Regions from separate parts of the Homo sapiens genome. Here region 2 is linked to region 1. The links come from fine-mapping of genetic effects on gene expression. A gene starts in region 1. The other region holds a variant in brackets. All regions are shown on one strand. Distances are from middle to middle. Region 1 holds the start of ERLIN1 (ER lipid raft associated 1). Region 2 overlaps BLOC1S2 (biogenesis of lysosomal organelles complex 1 subunit 2).

Region 1 (11,040 bases):
AGAAGAAAATTTGAACTGCCTTGGCCATTTAAGCACTATTATTCATGAGGCAAATGAGGAACAGGGCAATAGTATGATGGTAAGTTTTGTGTGGATATGGGTGCCTGCTTTGGCTATGTTGGGTGCAAAAGGTTTAACTTTCCATGCTAGCCTTATCTGGCATTTGGGATGCATATGGGAAATAGAAGAACTCAAGAGGAAAGAGCATTTGGGGAATATCCTCAACCTTAAATCCTTATCTGCCGTTACTCAGGGATATACTAGGATTATGTCATCAATTATCTTCAATAATAGCATTTTTGGTCAAATTAAATGAGTGGTAAGCTTCTTCACAATGTGACCATTGAAATTGAATGGTTTGTTCTGTACCTTTTTGCTTCAGCAATCAATTTTCTCCATTAAGATGGGACTTGTACTTTAATTCAGATATGGTACCTCCCGAATAGAAAATAAATTATGTTAATATAGTTGTAATAATAAGTGTGTGTTAAGATTTGGTTACTATAAACTACTGATTTGTTAAAACTTGAGGAAATTACCATAAAATGTCTACTGAATCAATTTTTCCTGCATTTAGTCTTAATGTCAATTCTGTACATTTCCTCTTTCATTAAGAAAAATAGCAGTGGCCAGGCATGGTGGCTCACGCCTGTAATCCTAGCACTTTGGGAGGCCAAGGCAGGTGGATTGCTTGAGCCCAGGAGTTTGAGACTAGCCTGGCCAACATGGGAAACCCTGTCTTTATAAAAAATATAAAAATTGGCCAGGTGTGGTGGCACACACCTGTGGTCCCAGCTACTTGGGAGGCTGAGGCAGGAAGATCGCTTGAGTTCAAGAGTTTCAGGCTGCAGTGAGCCGTAATCCTGCCATTGCACTCCAGCCTGTGACAGAGTGAGACTTTGTCTCGGGGAAAAAAAAAAAAAAAAAGGATAATGGTGGCCAGCCATATGACATGTACCTGTAGTCCGAGTTACTAGGGAGGCTGAGGCAGAAGGATTGCATGAGCCCAGGAGTTCAAGGCTGCAGTGCATTATGATTGGACTTGTGAATAGCCACTGTACTCCAGCTTGGCAACATAGCAAGATCCTGCTCTCTTAAGAAAAAAAAAAAAAAGAAAAGAAAAGGAAAGAATAATTGTTTACTTCAAATATTTATGAAAAAAACTCTGAAATTTTTTTAAATCAGGAAATAAGGTAAATGAAATGATTTTTCAACTTTTGATTATGAAATGTCCAAACAGAAAACTTGCAAAAATGAACACCCATATACTTATAACTTATAGTCAACATCTAATTGTAACTTTTTCATGCCTGGTTTTAGAATCTTGATTGGAGTTGGTTAACAGAATGAGTTGTCACTTGTTCACTGTCCCCAAACCTATGGAAGTTGTTGCTATACATGTTGGAAATGTGTTTTTCCCCCATGAAACCATTCTTCAGACATCAGTCAATGGAAGAAATGGCTATGAACAGAAACTACATTTCTACTATGATCAGAAGAACATGATTTTACAAGTATAACAGTTTTGAGTAATTCAAGCCTCTAAACAGACAGGAATTTAGAAAAAGTCAATGTACTTGTTTGAATATTTGTTTTAATACCACAGCTATTTAGAAGCATCATCACGACACATTTGCCTTCAGTCTTGGTAAAACATTACTTATTTAACTGATTAAAAATACCTTCTATGTATTAGTGTCAACTTTTAACTTTTGGGCGTAAGACCAAATGTAGTTTTGTATACAGAGAAGAAAACCTCAAGTAATAGGCATTTTAAGTAAAAGTCTACCTGTGTTTTTTTCTAAAAAGGCTGCTCACAAGTTCTATTTCTTGAAGAATAAATTCTACCTCCTTGTGTTGCACTGAACAGGTTCTCTTCCTGGCATCATAAGGAGTTGGTGTAATCATTTTAAATTCCACTGAAAATTTAACAGTATCCCCTTCTCATCGAAGGGATTGTGTATCTGTGCTTCTAATATTAGTTGGCTTTCATAAATCATGTTGTTGTGTGTATATGTATTTAAGATGTACATTTAATAATATCAAAGAGAAGATGCCTGTTAATTTATAATGTATTTGAAAATTACATGTTTTTTCATTTGTAAAAATGAGTCATTTGTTTAAACAATCTTTCATGTCTTGTCATACAAATTTATAAAGGTCTGCACTCCTTTATCTGTAATTGTAATTCCAAAATCCAAAAAGCTCTGAAAACAAGGTTTCCATAAGCTTGGTGACAAAATTCATTTGCTTGCAATCTAATCTGAACTGACCTTGAATCTTTTTATCCCATTTAGTGTGAATATTCCTTTATTTTGCTGCTTGATGATGAGAGGGAGGGCTGCTGCCACAGACTGTGGTGAGGGCTGGTTAATGTAGTATGGTATATGCACAAAACTACTTTTCTAAAATCTAAAATTTCATAATTCTGAAACAACTTGCCCCAAGGGTTTCAGAGAAAGGACTGTGGACCTCTATCATCTGCTAAGTAATTTAGAAGATATTATTTGTCTTAAAAAATGTGAAATGCTTTTATATTCTAATAGTTTTTCACTTTGTGTATTAAATGGTTTTTAAATTACTTTCTTGATCTCTATTCATTATAAAAATCAGATTATAATAAAACAGTTGAATATGGCTTAGGAAAATATGAAGGTTCCATGAAGTGGAATTAAGAGCATAGAATAACTGTACTTTCCTTAGGAATAATAGGACTTATGGTAAAGGTAGTATTGGGCAACTTCTTTAAGAGTGTTTTCCTCTGAGATGTCCTATCACCACTATCTACATCTAAAAAACATGCTCGATTCTTGCCCTATAAACTGATGTCACAGCCCCACCATCCCCATTTTTGCTAGTGGTATCATTTTCCTAGTCAACCAAATTTTTTAGTCATCACATATCACTGTTCGTCATCTATTATAATAGGCAGTCTCTCTCTTGTTTCCCTGGTTTTAGAAGATTTTAGTAATAAACATTTATTGGGTACCTGTTACTTGGAGGGTATTAAGCTAGATGGCAAGATCTGAAACAACATAGGCAGTATAGTAAAAGTGCTTATCTGGGAGTCTGAACATTACAAGCCATCCAAGCATTGCAATTATTGTTAAGGATTATTTTCAATGGTCATGCATTTTCTAATATTTTAATAATTGGTTAAAGATTTGTTATAGCGTGGGGGCCGCTGCTGGTGTGTGGCTGGGGTTATGTCAGGGCAGCCTGATCTATATAATTTGGGCAGATGGTGTGAGTCAGAACAGACTATTATAGTGGGATCCCCAAACTTGCTTTTGATGCATGAGTTGGACCACTATTTTTTGGTGGGTAACAACTTTTCAGAGGGGAATGGCAGTTGTGAATTGTATACATTTCATTCTTTAAGCAATATTATGAAAAACTTCAGAGAATGTCTACAGAAAACAGGGTATGGAGCAAGTTATTTTCCATTCTTTTTGCTTTTTGGAAGTTAAAATAGCTAAGCTCTGCAAATATCATTTATTTGGAACAGATAAGGTCCCAGACATTCCTAGATAATAAAAATCAAATGAATGATACAGGTAAGTGTATTTATTGAAGGGTGTGGGTAGAGTGGTCTGGGAAGTCTTGCTTTAATGAAGACGGATTGATTCTATTTACCTCTTCTTACTTCCACTACTAAGTAACCCTGGGCCTGCAGTTTCCTAACCACTTGACTTCCTTGCCAACAGTCTGTCTCCACTTTCAGCCGTTTTATAGATTCATTGGCCCTAAAGCACTGCTTTCCCATACTTCCCTACCCAAGAGGGCAGGGGTCCCCAAGCCCTGGGCCGCGGACCGGAACCAGACAGTGGCCTGTTAGGAACCAAGCCGGATAGCAGGAGGTGAGCGGCGGGCGAGTGAGCATTATCGCCTTGAGCTCTGCCTGCTGTCAGATTAGCGAGTGGCATCAGATTCTCATAGGCACGCGAACCCTATTGTGAACTGCACATGTGAGGTTTGCCGGCTCCCTGTGAGAATCTAATGCCTGATGATCTGAAGTGGAACAGTTTCATCCCCAACCCACACACACCCCCACCCCGTCCGCTGGGTTAGAGGACTTTACAACCCTAGTCCACCTTGTCCAGTTATAGTTCCACCTCTAGCCTTTCAAGGCTTAAACCATTAATGTCCTTAATTTCTCTTGTATTCATCTATCTCCCAACTATACCTTTTTCCTTCCCTTTTTTATTTTTGGCAATATGTGCCCATGGTTTTTTAATTTAAAACGAACAGAATATGTAGTGACGCCTACCATAGCACTCCTTCCCATCACACAAGCCTTCAAGGAAACTGAAGTACTTACTTTGGTCTCCCTGGAGGATTCCCTCCGCCTCCCGCCCCATGTGCTTAGCAATTCTGTTCCTGTAGTCTGGATGGCCTTCATAAAGCCCTCACTGGACCAGCATTCTGGCACATAATAGGAACACTTAAAAAACGAGAGAATGATGCCGTTATATCTAATATCTTCCTCTTCTGAACTTTCACAGCACTTTATTTGCAACAAGTTTAGTTGCTCCTGAAGGGCAGGATCTCTGCCGGAAGCAAGTGCGTGCCACACAGTGGGGCTCCGCATACACTGCAAAAGGACAAATAAACCGAACAGCTACCGTTTGAGAGTGAGCGAGTGGGTTCTCTGCACAAGAACAAACCAACCAGTCCCTTGTCCGAAAGGGCGTCTCCTTTTCTCTGCTTCGCTGCTCACTCCAGACTGCGGGCTGTCCTCTTCCGAAGCAGTTAACCAGCAGTGTACAGAAAGCGACTTGCCTCCAAAGGAGCCTGCGCGGCCCGCGGCTAGGAGAATTTTGTCCCATGCGCTCCCCGTCTCACTAGCCGCGGGCCGGGGCTACGCCGTGTGCGTCCCCGCGCAGCCGCAGTGCTGGGCGAGTGGGCGGGGCCGGCTGTTGGCGGCGGTTGGCTCGGCGCGGGAGTCGGCTGCACGTGCGGGCGGGGGCGATGCGTCACTGATCGGTGAGGCGCGGCCGAGGGGTCGGCTTTCCTCGCGAGCCTGCGGCTGGGCTTCTTCTCAGTTAGTGCCTTCCACCCGGGAGCGACCCTTGGGAGAGGGAGTTTCAGGAAGCTCACCGAGCAGGGGCGGCCCACTGGCCTCCGGGGGCGGAGGAGTTGGCAAGGGGTCAGCGGGCTCAGCCAGAAGGGAAGAATGAGGGGACAGGGGTACTGGACTCCCCGGCTCAGCCTGCGAGAGAGCGCCAAGTTTCCGGAGGGAGAGGGTAGAAACTGGAGGGGGTGGACCTGTCACTCACGGGACTGAGGGTCCTTTTCTCCCGCTCCCAGGAGGAACGAGAATGAATATGACTCAAGCCCGGGTTCTGGTGGCTGCAGTGGTGGGGTTGGTGGCTGTCCTGCTCTACGCCTCCATCCACAAGATTGAGGAGGGCCATCTGGCTGTGTACTACAGGTGAGCGGCATGTGCAGTCAGTTAGGGCTCTAGAGCAGATTAAAAGGGTACTCCAGAGTGGAGTCTGGGAAGTTGTTCCCTCTGCAACGTTCGGGGGCGCATGTCCCATCTCTAGGGAGAGCACGGGGGTCGAAGCGGGCTTTTGCGGAGCACCCTCCAGATGTTGGACAGTTTTAGTGCTATGTTCGTTTTGTTGCAGAGATTAAGTCTCCCTACGGTTATTCCTATACACAGCAAACTCAATTATTTGTAGAAAAATGAAGAAGGAAGAAAGGAAGTAGTCACTCTACCTCTAACTGAAGAGATGGATAAATTATAGTTCGTTCAACTGTACAGGCTTTAGTTTGCCGCTGTAGATGCTGTATGTTTATGGTTGTTTCTTAGACTTTTTCATTTAAAAGCTTCCAGTGTCTGGTTACGTCTTGTAACACCATGATGACTGTGATGGTGCTTATGTCCCTGGACCTCCAGGGACATAAGCACAACACTGATGGGCCATGCTCCTCCCTCCTTACTGTTGCTGTTCAAGTTGGGGACAGGAGTGGTGTGGGAGCTGTTGCTCTCTTGTTGAGCTCGCTTAGCTTTTCCTTCAGCCTAATTACCACAAGTTCCTTTTGATACAGACTAGTAAGAGAGGCCAGTTTGTGGAGAAATTGGGATAATGGTGTATTCAAAAAGAGCGTCAACTTTTTGCTTGTTTCCACTATCCCTCAAAACTGATATTTCTACTTTCAAATCCATCCTGAATCCTAGAAAAAGAGCAATTTTAATGGTATATCTTAGCAGATGGAGCTCTACATAAGAAATTACAGATTAGTCCAGATTTCCTTCCAGTTTAAAAGCATTGTCTTTCTGACAGTAAAACCAGAGAAAGGACATTTCAAGGAATGACTCAAAGAATTAGTAATGAACCTCAAACAGTTCATCTTTCCTTGTTATTATGACCTTGCAAATGTGTTTATATTTTCAAGACCGGTAGCTAAGTTCTATGAATTTACAAGGTGCAAAATAGGACTTTGTTTTCTTTGCTCCCCAAATGCCTCCTTTTTATAATTTCCAGGGCTTGCTTTCATAGTTTTCACATTCCAGGATTTGGTTAACAAGCCCTTATGCTATTTATTTGTATAGTCTTGTCACCCTTCATCTTTTCATGCTAATTTTTTGTTTTTATATAGAAATTTTATGTTCCCAGTATTTTAATTACCTTGTAGATAGATCGAAAGAATTATAAGCCTCAGAAATTTTCTCTTTACTTCAAAGTTTGCATTGTCTTTTTTTCAACCTGGTGATTAAATGTATTATATATTTTGATTTGGCTCTTGTTATGTACTATTAATGTACCTCTACTGAAAGCCATTAGAATTTTTTAAACAAATATTTCTCAGAAGGTTAAAGACCGAGGAGAATCCTTTGAACCTTAGAGCAGTGCTGGAGACCCAGAGGTACGGTTGGTTGAGCTTATGAAACAAGGTGTAACATTGGCAGTTTAATTTGATCTTTTTCCCTTTTTAGGTGTGGAGGTATTTTAAGCAGTTGTTCATTATGAGCAATTCATATTAGTGAGGCTTTAGTAGGTCAGCAGCATGAGCAAGAGTGAGTATTTATTATAGCATTTTAGATTTGGAAAGATAATTTTTCTTTTTATAATTTTGTCAAATTGAAACATCTTTTTGCAGGGGAGGAGCTTTACTAACTAGCCCCAGTGGACCAGGCTATCATATCATGTTGCCTTTCATTACTACGTTCAGATCTGTGCAGGTGAGTGATTCCTAGGGGAAGCCTCCATACCAGATAGACAGGCATGACAGGAGTTACCACACTTGTGGGTGGAGATAGATTTCCTTATTGCTTAAGCAGATGGTGGTATTTACTTAAATGCAGAAGTTAACGTTCAGAGTACAGTTGTTACAACACAAGTTATGATGTTAAACCACCTCACTTACTTGAAATGAATTAAAGGTATGAACCAGGAAGCTTGGAAGGACTGACTTCTACCATCTATATCGTGGTATATAGCAAATTTTCTGTTGCTGCTGTCACAATAAAAGTAAGAATTAGAAACACAACTAGACATACAAACCAGTGATTATGTGGTTTAGAACAGTGTTTAGTTTCCATAGAGGCAGGCTCCTGGGCTACTGTTAACATGGAGGATCAAAATTTTTATACACAGCCTTTCTGCCTCATGTTTTTTTGCCTGGTATATTAAGCACAATTTTATGTGGAACCTTAGTGAATGTTATATTTTGATGGCATCCCGGGATATTTGAAATAAGTGTCTAATCCTCGAAAAGTGTCTTGGCCATGGGAGACAATAAAATAAGTATCTTTCAATGTAACAAGATGACAAAACCAGGATTAGGCTGTGACCACTTTCGCAAGCCCAGTGTGATCATAAATCTTTGGATTCAGAAGTTTGTCTGCCATCTGCTGCTAATTTTTCAGGACTCAGGAAAATTCTGTGTTATTTAATCTTGTAATCTTATGTCTAGGCTTCCTGCTAAGTGAGAGTTTAATTATAAATTCTTAAATCCCCTAGGTTTTCTTCCTGTCCCCTTTTAGATGGCTTAGGGAAAGAATTGTGTCTACTGAAGTGAAATGTATTCTTCCCCTAATCAGACTGATTTCCATATGTTGTTCCATATTTATTTTACCCATTCTTTCCTTAGTTCATGCCATCACTTCTTTATCTGCCATCTCACTCTCCATTCCTTTTCTCCTGTCTAAATCTTGCCAGGCTTTTAAAGGCTCATCCCAGATTCTTCCTCTTCTGATCTATAGCTCTTAAAGTCTATATTGTAAATTTTGGCCCTTTGTCTTATTTTCTTTAATATTGTTGTCTTGCATTGTTTGCTAAGTTTTTTTATGTGTTTTCTTTCCAGAAAGGCTCCAGTTTTCTTAAAGGCAGGAGTTGTAACACATTTATATTTCTGGCTTTCTATTTATGGTGGAAGTTGTTAAATTGAGCTGATTTCTCAGGAAGCAATGTGGTGTAATGAACATGGGGACCCAGCGTTACCGCCAGTTGGTGGCATGACTTTGGAAAAATTGCTTAACTGTCATAGACTTCAGTTAGTCTTCTGTGAAAGGAGGAATTTTAATTACATAACCTCATCAACAGCCGAAACAATCTATAATAATGTTAGCAATGGCAGCATTAGACCCTTAAAAATCAAGACTCTAAGGCCCGGCGCAGTGGCTCATGCCTGTAATCCGAGCACTTTGGGAGGCTGAAGCAGGTGGATCACTTGAGCCTAGGAGTTTGAGACCAGCCTGGGCAACATGGGGAAACTCCGTCTCTTAAAAAAAAAAAAAAAAAAAAATCAAGGCTCTAACAAATAGATCTTGTTCAAAACCAGGTAGATCTGTCTCTGCCTTCATGCTTAGTATGTTAAGTCATACTGATGCAAAAATATAAATAAAGGAGATATAGATAATAGTAAACAGATTTTGGAGTTTAATTGTGTATATATATAACAAATATAGTGTGTGTATATATTTAATAATAAACTATCATAAGAGATGTAAATGAAATTAGTACAGAGACTTCAGTGTAAACTAAAATACTTCGCATCTACAAAAAAGTTTTACATGGGCTAGAGCCAGCCAGTGTGACTAAATAGGAATGTTCTTTATGTGTAAAACGGTAACATTCTAGGAAATAATTATATTAATAAAACCATATTTAAAAAGTGTTCTTGGCCGGGCGTGGCGGCTCACGCCTGTAATCCCAGCACTTTGGGAGGCCGAGGCAGGCAGATCACTTGAGGTCAGGAGTTCAAGACCAGCCTGGCCAACCTGGTCAAACGCTGTGTCTACAAAAATACAAAAATTAGCTGGGCGTGGTTGTGCGTGCCTGTAATCCCAGCTATTTGGGAGGCTGAGGCAGGAGAATCGCTTGAACCTGGGAGACCGAGGTTGCAGTGAGCCGAGATCGTACCCTTGCACTCCAGCCTGGGCAACAGAGGAAGACTCCGTCTCAAAAAAAAAAAAAAAAAAAGAGTGTTCTTAAGAGAGTAAGACATAAATTTATTTTTAGGAATTTTTGGAACATATTAGAAGACATAGTCCAGATAAACAAATGGTTTAACAAACTTGGCAATTGAAAGGAATGTATATAAATGTGAAATTCCATATATGATGTAAAAAGAAAAAGCAATGGAGAAATTATATGAAAACCTTCAGCCTTCATAAAGTAACCATAGATTCACTTTTTAAATAAATTTTCTGTCATACTGGGAAAGTAATTTTTAAGAGGACATAAAAGAAATATAAAAGTACATAAAGATAGGGTGTTAAATGGAAGATTTAACATTTGAACCCTTTCCTAGTTCTTCTGAGTTTGAAAATTGGCTAGAGAATATCCTTTTGGTTTAAATAGGAACGTGTATTTAAAGTTGGTGTGGAATATGGAAACTGAATTAATGTTATAAAGGAAATAAATATAATTTGTCTCTTCATCAATCCCCTTAACCTAGAACTGCCACCAATGTTTACTGTCATTCTAATGTCTCAACCTAAGAGTTATTTTTTATTCTTTCCCCTCCTGGAATTTTATATCAACCAAGTATCAGATACCTCCTCTATTATGTCTGGATTGACAGCTTTCATGGCCTTTACTGAATTAATCTAAATAAATTAATTATTTAGCCTCCCAGCTGGTTTTCTTACCTCCCTATAAGATGGAGAATGAGAACTACATCACATGTGAGAAAAGGAATTAAGTAAACATATTTTTGAATGGTTCGTTTTGTGACTGTATATAAGGTGAACTAGAGAGATCCCAAACTCCCCAGCCAGCATTCAGGGCCCTCTGTCTAGTATTACCATGGTCTCTTGTCAGAATTTCATCTTTCATCCAAATTGTCCCTTCTGCTCCAGGCAAGCCTATCTACTTTCGTTCGCCTATACACATGTTGTCTTCAACTGTGTGTATTTCAGTAGGATATTTATTGAGCTTAAGATGTTCCTCTGCCTCATCTGTTCTTATTTCTCCCACTCTAGACCTGGCTTATAAATCCTTCACCTCAGAGAGCTTTTCAAACTACTATTTTTTTCACTTTCTGTAATTTACCACTTAACAGTTCAGTTTATAATTTGTGTTTTTGGTTTTGTTTTGTTTTGTTTTGTACCTGTTGATGGATTGATTGCATTGTAACATTTTGTCTCCTGTGCTGGATTGTGAACTCTTTGGAAACAGGGACTGTGATTCCTTTTTCCTTTGCTTTGTGCTTGATAAGATGCAGTATGTCTAGAATGTACTCATTAGGTGCTGACCTATTTGAGGCCTTAGAGTACAGCAGGAAGTCATTCATTCTGGATCTGAACAAAGGTGTGACAAGGGCAAAGCAATTAAGTACCAGATTGTTGGTTCACCAGGAGGAAGCAGTACTGGTGGTAGCACTTCTATTAAAAAGGAAACTGAATAGGACATGTGAGAGATCACTAGGTATTAAACTAAAATGTTGACCACAGCTTTAGAGAAGAAAGGTTGCTGTTGGATTCAAGGGCAGCTTTGAGTCTTAGAGTACTTGTATGCATAAAATCTCTTTTATCTTCAACATAAATAGTAATATTAGCAGTGGAATCAAAGTTCAGAGTGCAAG
Region 2 (10,711 bases), 92 kb before region 1:
TTATTATATAATTAATTTTAAGCAAATTGTTATTTTCCTGTGATTGTTATTCTTACTCGCACAAATGCTTTATTGAATTTAAGAGTAAATTGATATTTCCTCTTAAACTATGCTAGTTTCTAGCATAAGCCTGGGAATGCCCATAGGTATGTGCTACCCATGTAAACATCAGTTATGTGTTACAGCTGAGAAACAGTTGAGAACTGATAGTTAAGGGGGTCTGATAAGAAAGCATCTGGCATAGACATCTAAGAAGAGCAGTTAGAGATTAGAAAATCATCGGTGTAGTACAATGCCATAGCAGCCAAAGGAAATGAGCATTTCCCAAAGAGAAGGAGATCAGTAGTGTCCAAGACAATGGAGAGGTTTAGGAGGATAAGAACTGAGCAAATGCCATGGATTTGGTGGTTAGCAGAGCAGGATGACTTTGGAGCATGTAATCTCTGGATGGTAGGGCCAAAAACCAGACTACAAGGGTATATGCAAGTAAATGGTAAGGAAGAGGATGTAGTGAGTGTCAGCTACTTTTTCAAATTGTTTAGCAGTGAAGCTCCTTTGCTTTACTGAGCAAATGATATAGATGTAGCAGAATAGAGAGAGTGCTTTTGAGCTGGAAGAAATCTGAATATATTGATACATAGAGAGGAAGGTGCCAGGAGAGAGGGAGAATTTGGAAATGCAAGTGAAAGGAGATGATTGAAGAGAGGCCCTGAAGAAGTAGAAGTGTTTGGGTTCAAGGCCACAAGAGGAGGGGGTTGTCTTGGCAAGAATAGGAACACTTCTGCCTCTTGGGAAGATATTAAGATCCAGAGAAGTTTAGAAGTGAGGCAGAGAGAAAAACAAAAAACAAAAGAAGTAAGGCAGAGAGGTTGAAGCAGCTTATGTTAATGGACTTGGCCTTTAGGAAAATTGGAGTAGAGACCATTTGCTTTGAATGGGGATAGGGAAAGAACTGAGGATATGAGAAGCAGACAGATGGTTTGGAAATGTCACTGCATAAAATGCAATATAGAATTATACATGGTAATAAACGAGTTACTAAGAAGTAGTGAGGTCCTAGCTGATAGTGTGTGTGTGTGTGTGTGTGTGTGTGTGTGTGTATGTGTATATATATATATTTTTTTTTTTTGAGATGGAGTCTCACTCTGTCACCCAGGCTGGAATGCAGTGGCACAATCTCGGCTCACTGCAACCTCCGCCTCCTGGATTCAAGCAATTCTCTGCCTCAGCCTCCCGAGTAGCTGAGATTACAGGTGCCTGCCACCACGCCCGCTAATTGTTTTGTATTTTTAGTAGAGATGGGGTTTCACTATCTTGGCCAGGTTGGTCTTGAACTCCTGACCTCGTGATCACCCGCCTCGGCTTCCCAAAGTGCTGGGATTACACGCATGAGCCACCGCGCCCAGCCTGATAGTATATATATTATATGTATATAAGTTAAATGTTTTCATGCTGTAGAAGTACCAAGACTATTTTACCTCCCTTTTCTTAGGACATGAGTTTATCATTTCCCTTTGTAACCATGATCCTGAACCTTCTGGATCTTGTTTGGTTTAAATAGTTTTCTGATTGTTGCCTGAATTTCTACCTAGACTTTCAGAGTACATAGGCTGAGTTATAAATGTCATAGATCAAAAGTGGCCCACTCCTTTGACACTTCCTTGGTCCTGCCTTGAACTACCACTTAGCTTATACTCCCACATTCTAATGATTTAAGACAAATCTTAAAGACATTACATCTTCTGTTTAATTTTCAAGCCACCAGTGAAGACTATAAGCTCCTGGAAAATATGAATAAACTCACCAGCTTGAAGTATCTTGAAATGAAAGATATTGCTATAAACATTAGTAGGAACTTAAAGGACTTAAACCAGAAATGTAAGTAATAATATTTGTAATTAAACATGTTTGTATTTAATGTTCTTTTGTGCTTGGGGCCATGGAGAAGAGGAGGGAACATGACATCCTTGTCTTGTGGGAGCTTGTTTTCTAAAAATGAATTCCAAATTTAAGATGAATTTCTTCCATTCTGAGGATTAGCATGTTTTGTTTGTATGGGTATTTTTGCTTCTAAATCTTGATTTTATCAGTTTATTCCTGGAATGGGAGGGGGCAAAGGAAGGGTGGCCAGATTCTAATGAATTGATTTACAAATCCATAAAGGATTACTCTATAAGCAGAAAACCAAAAACTCTATAATGGAAAACACTAATTTAGAGTAGTCGAATATATTTTTTCCATTGACTTATTATTTTTGTGTTTCTTTTCTCTAGGGTGCTCTTTCTTGGTATGGGAGTACCCAAGAAACAGAATCAGTAATGGAAAGATTGCTCAAGGAGCAAGAAATTAAAAAGAATGGAAAATTAGTAGATGAGAGACACTAAGTCTGGGCCACAGTCGTGCCTGATCAACTAGCTACTGTCTTCTAAAGCATCTGCCCTGCTAGTGCTCAGAATCATGTCACGCCACCTAATCTGTCTTAGCATAGCTGGAGAGACACTAGCATTATTACTTTTCCACTCTTTTCCTATATTCTTTGTTAATAAAGCCATATAAACATGAAGTTTTTCTTTGTTTTTAAAGATGCTGGACTGCAGCCTTATCTGGATCAGATCAATGTCATTGAAGAGCAGGTAGCAGCTCTTGAGCAGGCAGCTTACAAGTTGGATGCATATTCAAAAAAACTGGGTAACCGTTTTTACTTCTGTTTTGATGTAATAAAGACTGCTTCTTGCCAGCATATTCTTAGTAAACATAATAGTTAACATTTATGGTGTGCCTACAGTGATCTATTAATCTTCACAAAACCTTAGTAATTTATTATTATATTAATAAAAATAACATTTCCTGATTACTTAATGATATATCAGGCACTGTTCTTAGTGCTTTACATGTATTATGTTTGGTTTTTGTTTTTGGTTTGTTTTTTTTGAGACAAGTTTCACTCTTGTTGCCCAAGCTGGAGTGCAATGGTGCGATCTCGGCTCACCGCAACCTCCGCCTCCTGGGTCTGGGTTCAAGCGATTCTCCTGCCTCAGCCCCCCGAGTAGCTGGGATTACAGGCGCGCCACCACGCCTGGCTAATTTTGTATTTTTAGTAGAGACAGGGTCTCTCATGTTGGTCAGGCTGGTCTCGATCTCCCAACCTCAAGTGATCTGCCCACCTCGGCCTGGCCTGTATTATGTTTTTTATCTTCCCAATAATCTGTGAGGTAAGTACATGATTTTTTTTTGTACTTTTAGTAGAGACGAGGTTTCACCATGTTGGCCAGGCTGGTCTTGAACTCCTGACCTCGTGATCCGCCCGCCTCAGCCTCCCAAAGTGCTGGGATTATAGGTGTGAGCCACCACATCTGGTTCAAGTACATGATTTTTATCCTCATTTTGTAGGCAAGGAAACTGGTTTAAGGGGATAAGTAAGTTGCTTAAGGACACTAAGCCAGTACAGGGAAGAGCCATATTTCTAAGCAGGTCTGTTTGCTTACAAAGCTCAAGTTCTTATTTGTAGTTGAGAAAGCAGAAGCACCTTTAATAATGTAGATAAATATGTCTTAAATGAATAGTCAGTTGAGGATTTTCTTGAAAGATCACTTTTCCTTTGAGGAAGAAACTAGTATTTTTAGTACTAGTGGTTTGCTAACTGGCTCTGGCTCTTACATACATGGTTAAAAGTAAAGAATTTAGTGGGTTTTTTGTTGTTGTTGTTTTGTTTTTTTTTTCTATAAGAGATGAGGTCTTGCTGTGTCACCCAGGCTAGGGTGCAATGACGTGATCATAGCTCGCTGTAGCCTTGAACTCCTGGGCTCTAGTGATCCTCCTTCCTCAGCCTCCTGAGTACCTGGGACTACAGGTGTGCACCATCACATCCAGCTACTTTAAAAAAATTGTTTTTGAAACAAGGCCTTGCTGTGTTGCCCAGGCTGGTCT[C/T]GAACTCATGGCCTTAAGCAATCCTCCCACCTCAGCCTCTCAAGTAGCTGGAATCACAGGCCTTTTTTTTTTTTTATTGATCATTCTTGGGTGTTTCTCACAGAGGGGGATTTGGCAGGGTCATAGGACACTAGTGGAGGGAAGGTCAGCAGACAAACAAGTGAACAAAGGTCTCTGGTTTTCCTAGGCAGAGTGTTTGTGTCCCTGGGTACTTGAGATTAGGGAGTGGTAATGACTCTTAACGAGCATGCTGCCTTCAAGCATCTGTTTAACAAAGCACATCTTGCACCGCCCTTAATCCATTTAACCCTGAGTGGACACAGCACATGTTTCAGAGAGCACAGGGTTGGGGGTAAGGTCATAGATCAACAGGATCCCAAGGCAGAAGAATTTTTCTTAGTACAGAACAAAATGAAAAGTCTCCCATGTCTACTTCTTTCTACACAGACACGGCAACCATCCGATTTCTCAATCTTTTCCCCACCTTGCCCCCTTTTCTATTCCAGAAAACCGCCATCGTCATCATGGCCCATTCTCAATGAGCTGTTGGGTACACCTCCCAGACGGGGTGGTGGCCGGGCAGAGGGGCTCCTCACTTCCCAGTAGGGGCGGCCGGGCAGAGGCGCCCCTCAGCTCCTGGACCGGGTGGCTGGCCAGGCGGGGGGCTGACCCCCCCACCTCCCTCCCGGACGGGGCGGCTGGCCGGGTAGGGGGCTGACCCCCCCACCTCCCTCCCAGACGGGGTGGCTGGCCGGGAGGGGGCGCTGACCGCCCCCCCACCTCCCTCCCGGACGGAGCGGCTGGCCCGGCGGGGGGCTGAGCCCCCCACCTCCCTCCCGGACGGGGCGGCTGGCCGGGCGGGGGGCTGATTCCCTCACCTCCCTCCCGGACAGGGCGGCTGGCCGGGCAGAGGGGCTCCTCACTTCCCAGTAGGGGCGGCCGGGCAGAGGCGCCCCTCACCTCCCGGACGGGGCGGCTGGCCAGGCGGGGGGCTGACCCCCCCACCTCCCTCCCGGACGGGGCGGCTGGCCGGGCGGGGGGCTGACTCCCCCACCTCCCTCCCGGACGGGGCGGCTGGCCGGGCAGAGGGGCTCCTCACTTCCCAGTAGGGGCGGCCAGGCAGAGGCGCCCCTCACCTCCCGGACGGGGCGGCTGGCCGGGCGGGGGGCTGAGCCCCCCACCTCCCTCCCGGACGGGGCGGCTGGCCGGGCGGGGGGGCTGAGCCCCCCACCTCCCTCCTGGACGGGGTGGCTGGCTGGGCAGGGGGGCTGACCCCCTCCCACCTCCCTCCCGGACGGAGCGGCTGGCCGGGCGGGGGGCTGACCCCCCCACCTCCCTCCCGGACGGGACAGCTGGCCAGGCGGGGGGCTGACCCCCCCACCTCCCTCCCGGACGGGACGGCTGGCCGGGCGGGGGGCTGACCCCCCCACCTCCCTCCCGGACGGGGTGGCTGGCTGGGCAGAGGGGCTCCTCACTTCCCAGTAGGGGCGGCCGGGCAGAGGCGCCCCTCACCTCCCGGACGGGGCGGCTGGCCGGGCGGGGGGCTGACCCCCACCTCCCTCCCGGCCGGGGTGGCTGCCGGGCGGAGACGCTCCTCACTTCCCAGACGGGGTGGCAGCCAGGCGGAGGGGCTCCTCACTTCTCAGACGGGGCGGTTACCAGGCGGAGGGTCTCCTCACTTCTCAGACGGGGCGGCCGGGCAGAGACGCTCCTCACCTCCCAGATGGGGCGGCGGGGCACAGGCGCTCCCCACATCTCAGACGGTGGGCTGCCGGGCAGAGACGCTCCTCACTTCCTAGATGGGATGGCGGCCGGGAGGAGGCGCTCCTCACTTCCCAGGTGGGATGGCGGCCGGGCAGAGACGCTCCTCACTTTCCAGACTGGGCAGCCAGGCAGAGGGGCTCCTCACATCCCAGACGATGGGCAGCCAGGCAGAGACACTCCTCACTTCCCAGACGGGGTGGCGGCCAGGCAGAGGCTGCAATCTCCGCACTTTGGGGGGGCCAAGGCAGGCGGCTGGGAGGTGGAGGCCATAGCGAGCCGAGATCACGCCACTGCACTCCAGCCTGGGCACCATTGAGCACTGAGTGAATGAGACTCCGTCTGCAATCCCGGCACCTCGGGAGGCCGAGGCTGGCGGATCACTCGCGGCTAGGAGCTGGAGACCAGTCCGGCCAACACAGCGAAACCCCGTCCCCACCAAAAAAACACGAAAACCAGTCAGGCGTGGCGGCGCGCGCCTGCAATCGCAGGCACTCGGCAGGCTGAGGCAGGAGAATCAGGCAGGGAGGCTGCAGCGAGCCGAGATGGCAGCAGTACAGTCCAGCTTTGGCCCGGCTTGAGAGGGAGACCGTGGAAAGGAGAGGGAGAGGGAGACGGGAGAGGGAGAGGGAGAGGGAGACGGGAGAGGGAGAGGGAGACGGGAGAGGGAGAGGGAGACGGGAGAGGGAGAGGGAGACGGGAGAGGGAGAGGGAGACGGGAGAGGGAGAGGGAGACGGGAGAGGGAGACGGGAGAGGGAGACGGGAGAGGGAGACGGGAGAGGGAGACGGGAGAGAGAGAGGGAGACGGGAGAGGGAGATGGAGAGGGAGACGGGCCTGAGTTTGTTTTTGTCCTTATAACATTTACAGATTATTTTATTTTCATCATTTAACAAGGGCTGACTACTTCAAGAAAGTAGTTTGTAGTAGGCTGGGATTTGATATGGGTGGCGATTAACAATCAGTTTTATTTTCTACAGTTACATTTAGCCAGTGATTACCGTGAACCTTACCGCGTAGAAGGCAGGGGTAACCTTACCATGTAGAAAGTATCTTGGTTCACAGTAACCATTTGTGACAGAGTCCCTTTTTCTGTTAAAATTGTGAAACCAGGTGCTTTCATGGTTTTAATAGAAAAACGGAATGTCAGAGTAAGAGGCTTATTTGATGGCCTTTTAAATATCTGTATCTTTCAAAATTGCTTTCCTGGAGTAAGGTGTAAGGATAAGAACATACAGGAGGAAACATACATTTATACTTCCTGAGGGTTCCAGTCTGGTTCCAGAGGGCACCTGGGACAGTGCTGAGAGAGGCAGTTTTTTAGTAAGGCTCCCGATAGGTCAAGTGACAGATGTGCCCCATCCTGGTGGAGCTGTCTAAGTAGGTGCTGTTGACAGGGTGAGGACTTCGTGAACCTGTGTTAGGCTCTCAGTTCTGAGTGTCTGTGCTTGAATTCTTATTCCAAGTTTTACAGATCAGTGATCCGTATATTTGGACAGATGATGAGATTGAAGCTAATAGATTTTTAGTAATATTATACATATTTTTTAAACTTGACTGGAAATGCTAACTAAAAACTGTCTTTGTAAGAGCCAGTTTTAAAAGATGTAACTCTCCCTCATCCCTCACAGAAGCCAAGTACAAGAAGCTGGAGAAGCGATGAGAAACTTATTTCTATGGGACAGAGTCTTTTTTTTTTAATGTGGAAGAATGTCTTATAAAACCTGAATCCTGAGGCTGATGAATTGTGAAAATTCCTCAAAAGGAAATTATGCTGGTCATCACAGGAACATCTCAACGTTCGAGTAAACTGGAGGACTGTGGCTATTCCTGAACCTTCTTTGAGACAGAATCCCTCAGAATCTCACACTTATAACTTCCTACCTTTTACTTGAATGCTTTGCCATATTCAGGACAGAGACTCTCACAAAGTTCAGAAAACAGCTGGACTTACCAGTAAAATCAAATGAGAGGACCTATTTTCTCTGGTAGTGGTTGATTACTACATTATTTTCTTAAGTGGCTGGTTTTTTAGTTACTATGTAAATGGTCGTTTTTCTGTTAATGATGCTAATGTGTTGTAAACAAGATTCTAAATTTAAAAAGGAAAACAAAACAAACTTGTTCTTTGCAGCTTATCACCTTGTGAATGTCGGTAACTTACTTTTCCATAATATTGCAAATAACATAAAATCTTAAAATAATTCCAAGCTGAGTCTTCTAGATTGAGCAGAAATGGTGAAAGGAGTATTGATAACTTGGCGTATGTGATGGGCCCCTCTTGTTTATTTTCTATGTGAGTCACATTGACATGCGATCAGTTTGGGAAATGTGATGAAAACAAAGACTAGATGGGTATGTGTGTTTATGTGTTGGGTAGGGAGGTGACGATTGCCACTCATAAAATAAAGGATTTTATAAAATACCTTCCTACTGTGTATGTAGGATTTGGGGGGATCTTAGGGACCTAATCGACTTCTTTGCACACTAAAAACATCAGACAATGGGACATACTGACTGACCAGTCTAGGTTGAAAGATAGGCAGCCTTACCCAGAACACAACATTAGCAGCTGGGAAGGTGTCTGAGGTCCCCAATTACATATCCCAAAGAGTTTCTTACTTCTGTTTCTGTCATTTCCCCTCTGTTCCAGACAGTCATCATTTATCCTCTGTTCTTCCTGGACTGTTGCTGTGGTCTCTTCTCATCTTAACTGTCCCTTCCAACCACCCTCCACACTGCTGCCAGAGCAATCTTAAAAATGTAAACTGGCCCTATTACTCCTGCTTAGAACCCTGTAGTGACTTATCATGGCCTCTGAAAAATCTAGACTTTCATTATGCATACAAGTCCCTTGTGTTTTTTTGTTTGTTTATAGACAGGGTCTCTATTGTCACCCAGGCTGGAGTGTGGTGGTGTGATAATAGCTCACCTTGACCTCCTAGGCTCAACTGATCTTCCCACCTCAGCCTCCTGAATAGCTGGGACTACCAGCACGCTCCACCATGCCTTGCTAATTATTTTTTATACAGATGGAGTCTCACTATGTTGTCCAGGCTGGTCTTGAACTGGCCTCAAGTGATTCTCTTACCACAGCCTGCCAGAGTGCTGAGATTGTAGGCATGAACCACCGTGCCTAACATAAGGCCCCTATTTAAACATTTTTCTTAAATAAAAAACAAAAGAATTAAACTGTAACTCTACTATCTTAACATAGAATCAGTCTTACCCCTTCTTCCAACCCTTTTCCTTTTCCGTGCATGTATTGATCTATTTTTTTTTTTTTTTTGAGATGAAGTCTTGCTCTGTCGCCTGGGCTGGAGTGCAGTGGTGCGATCTTAGCTCACTGCAACCTCTGTTTCCTGGGTTCAAGCGATTCTCCTGCCTCAGCCTCCCGAGTAGTTGAGATTTACAGGTGCCCACCACCATGCCAGGCTAATTTTTGTATTTTTAGTAGAGACGGGGTTTCACCATGTTGGCCAGGCTGGTCTCGAACTCCTGACCCCAAATGATCCACCCACCTCGGCCTCCCAAAGTGCTGGGATTACAGGTGTGAGCCACCGCACCCAGCCATGTTGATCTATTTTTAAAAAGTTTTTATTTCCTGTTACACTGTGTTCAGCTATCTTCAGCCACCTTAAATTCCCATGGATGAGTTTTCATAAACTTTTTGAAAATAGATTTAGATTTACGGGAAAGTTGCAAAGATAATACAGAATTTAATGGATGAGTTTTTTTATTGATGTGTAATAGATGTATGTATTTTCAGAGTACAAGTGATAATTTAATACATGTATATAATGTGTAAATATTAAATCAAGAGTTATTGGGATGTCCTTCACCTTAATATTTATCTTGTCTTTATGCTAGGAACATTATTTGAATTATTCTCTTTTACCTATTTTGAAATGTACAATAGATTAACATTAGCTATAGTTACTCTACTGATCTATCATAGGTCTTATTTCTTCTGTATTTGTGTCCACTAATCAAACTCTTCATCCTCACGTCCCCACCACCTTTCCTGGCCTCTGGTAACCACCAATCTACCTCCATCTCCATGAGATCCACTTTTTTAGCTCCCACATGTGAGTGAGAACATGTAATATTTGTCTTTTCTGTGCTTGGCTTAGTTCAGTTAACACAATCACCTCCAGTTTCATCCATGTTGCTGAGAATGACAGAATTTCATTCCTTTTATGGCTGAACAATATTCCATTGTGTATATATACCACATTTTCTTTACCCATTCATCCATTGATGGACACTTAGGTTGATTCCATATTTTAGCTATTGTGAATAGTGCTGCAATAAACATGAGAGTGCATATATCTCTTTGATATATTGATTTCCTTTCTTTTGGATACATACCCAGTAGTGGAATTTGCTGGATCATATTGTAGTTCTATTTTTAGTTTTTGGAGGAAACTATACAATTTTCCATAGTGGCTGTACTAATTTACATTCCCACCAACTGTGTACAAGAGTTCCTCTTTCTCTGCATCCTTGCCAGCATCTGTTAATTCCTGTCGTCTTGATAGGAAATTTTAAGTGGGATGAGGTGATATCTTGTTGTGGCTTTGATTTGCATTTCTCTGATGATTGGTGATGTTGAGCATTTTTTCTTATAGCTGTTGGCCATTTGTATGTCTTGAGAAATGTCTATTTTGATCTTTTGCTCCCCCCGCTTTGTTTTTTTAAGAGATGAGTTCTCATTATGTTGCCCATGCTGGAATCAAACTGGGCTCAAACAGTCCTCCTGGGACTGGGCATAGTGGCTGAGGCCTGTAATCCCAGCACTTTGGGAGGCTGAGTAGGTGGACCATCTGAGGTCAGGAGTTCAAGGCCAGCCTGGCCAACATAGTGAAACCCTATCTCTACTAAAACTACAAAAAATTAGCCAGGCATGGTGGTGAGCACCTGTAATCCCAGCTACTTGGGAGGCTGAGGCAGGAGAATCACCTGGACCCCAGAGGTGGAAGTTGCAGTGAGCTGAGACTGTGCCACTGCACTCCAACCTGGGT

The links.
Region 2: its variant is fine-mapped to the expression of ERLIN1 in whole blood (TOPMed, PIP 0.97).

The regions. Positions count from the first base shown.
Region 1 is chr10:100,179,908-100,190,947 of GRCh38, reverse strand. ERLIN1 (ER lipid raft associated 1) reads left to right here and starts at 4,919. Exons shown (of 11, transcript NM_006459.4): 1 at 4,919-5,434; 2 at 7,111-7,192. The coding sequence starts at 5,322. CHUK (component of inhibitor of nuclear factor kappa B kinase complex) reads left to right here. Exons shown (of 21, transcript NM_001278.5): 20 at 1-79; 21 at 1,321-2,648. The coding sequence ends at 1,350. RefSeq lists an enhancer at 4,552-4,701 and a silencer at 4,872-5,021.
Region 2 is chr10:100,272,101-100,282,811 of GRCh38, reverse strand. It overlaps BLOC1S2 (biogenesis of lysosomal organelles complex 1 subunit 2), which reads left to right. Exons shown (of 5, transcript NM_173809.5): 3 at 1,759-1,878; 4 at 2,584-2,688; 5 at 7,319-9,519. The coding sequence ends at 7,350. Among named protein-coding and RNA genes, the nearest start is that of BLOC1S2, 9.2 kb to the left of the region's middle. The variant C/T (reference allele first, on the strand shown) is at 3,928.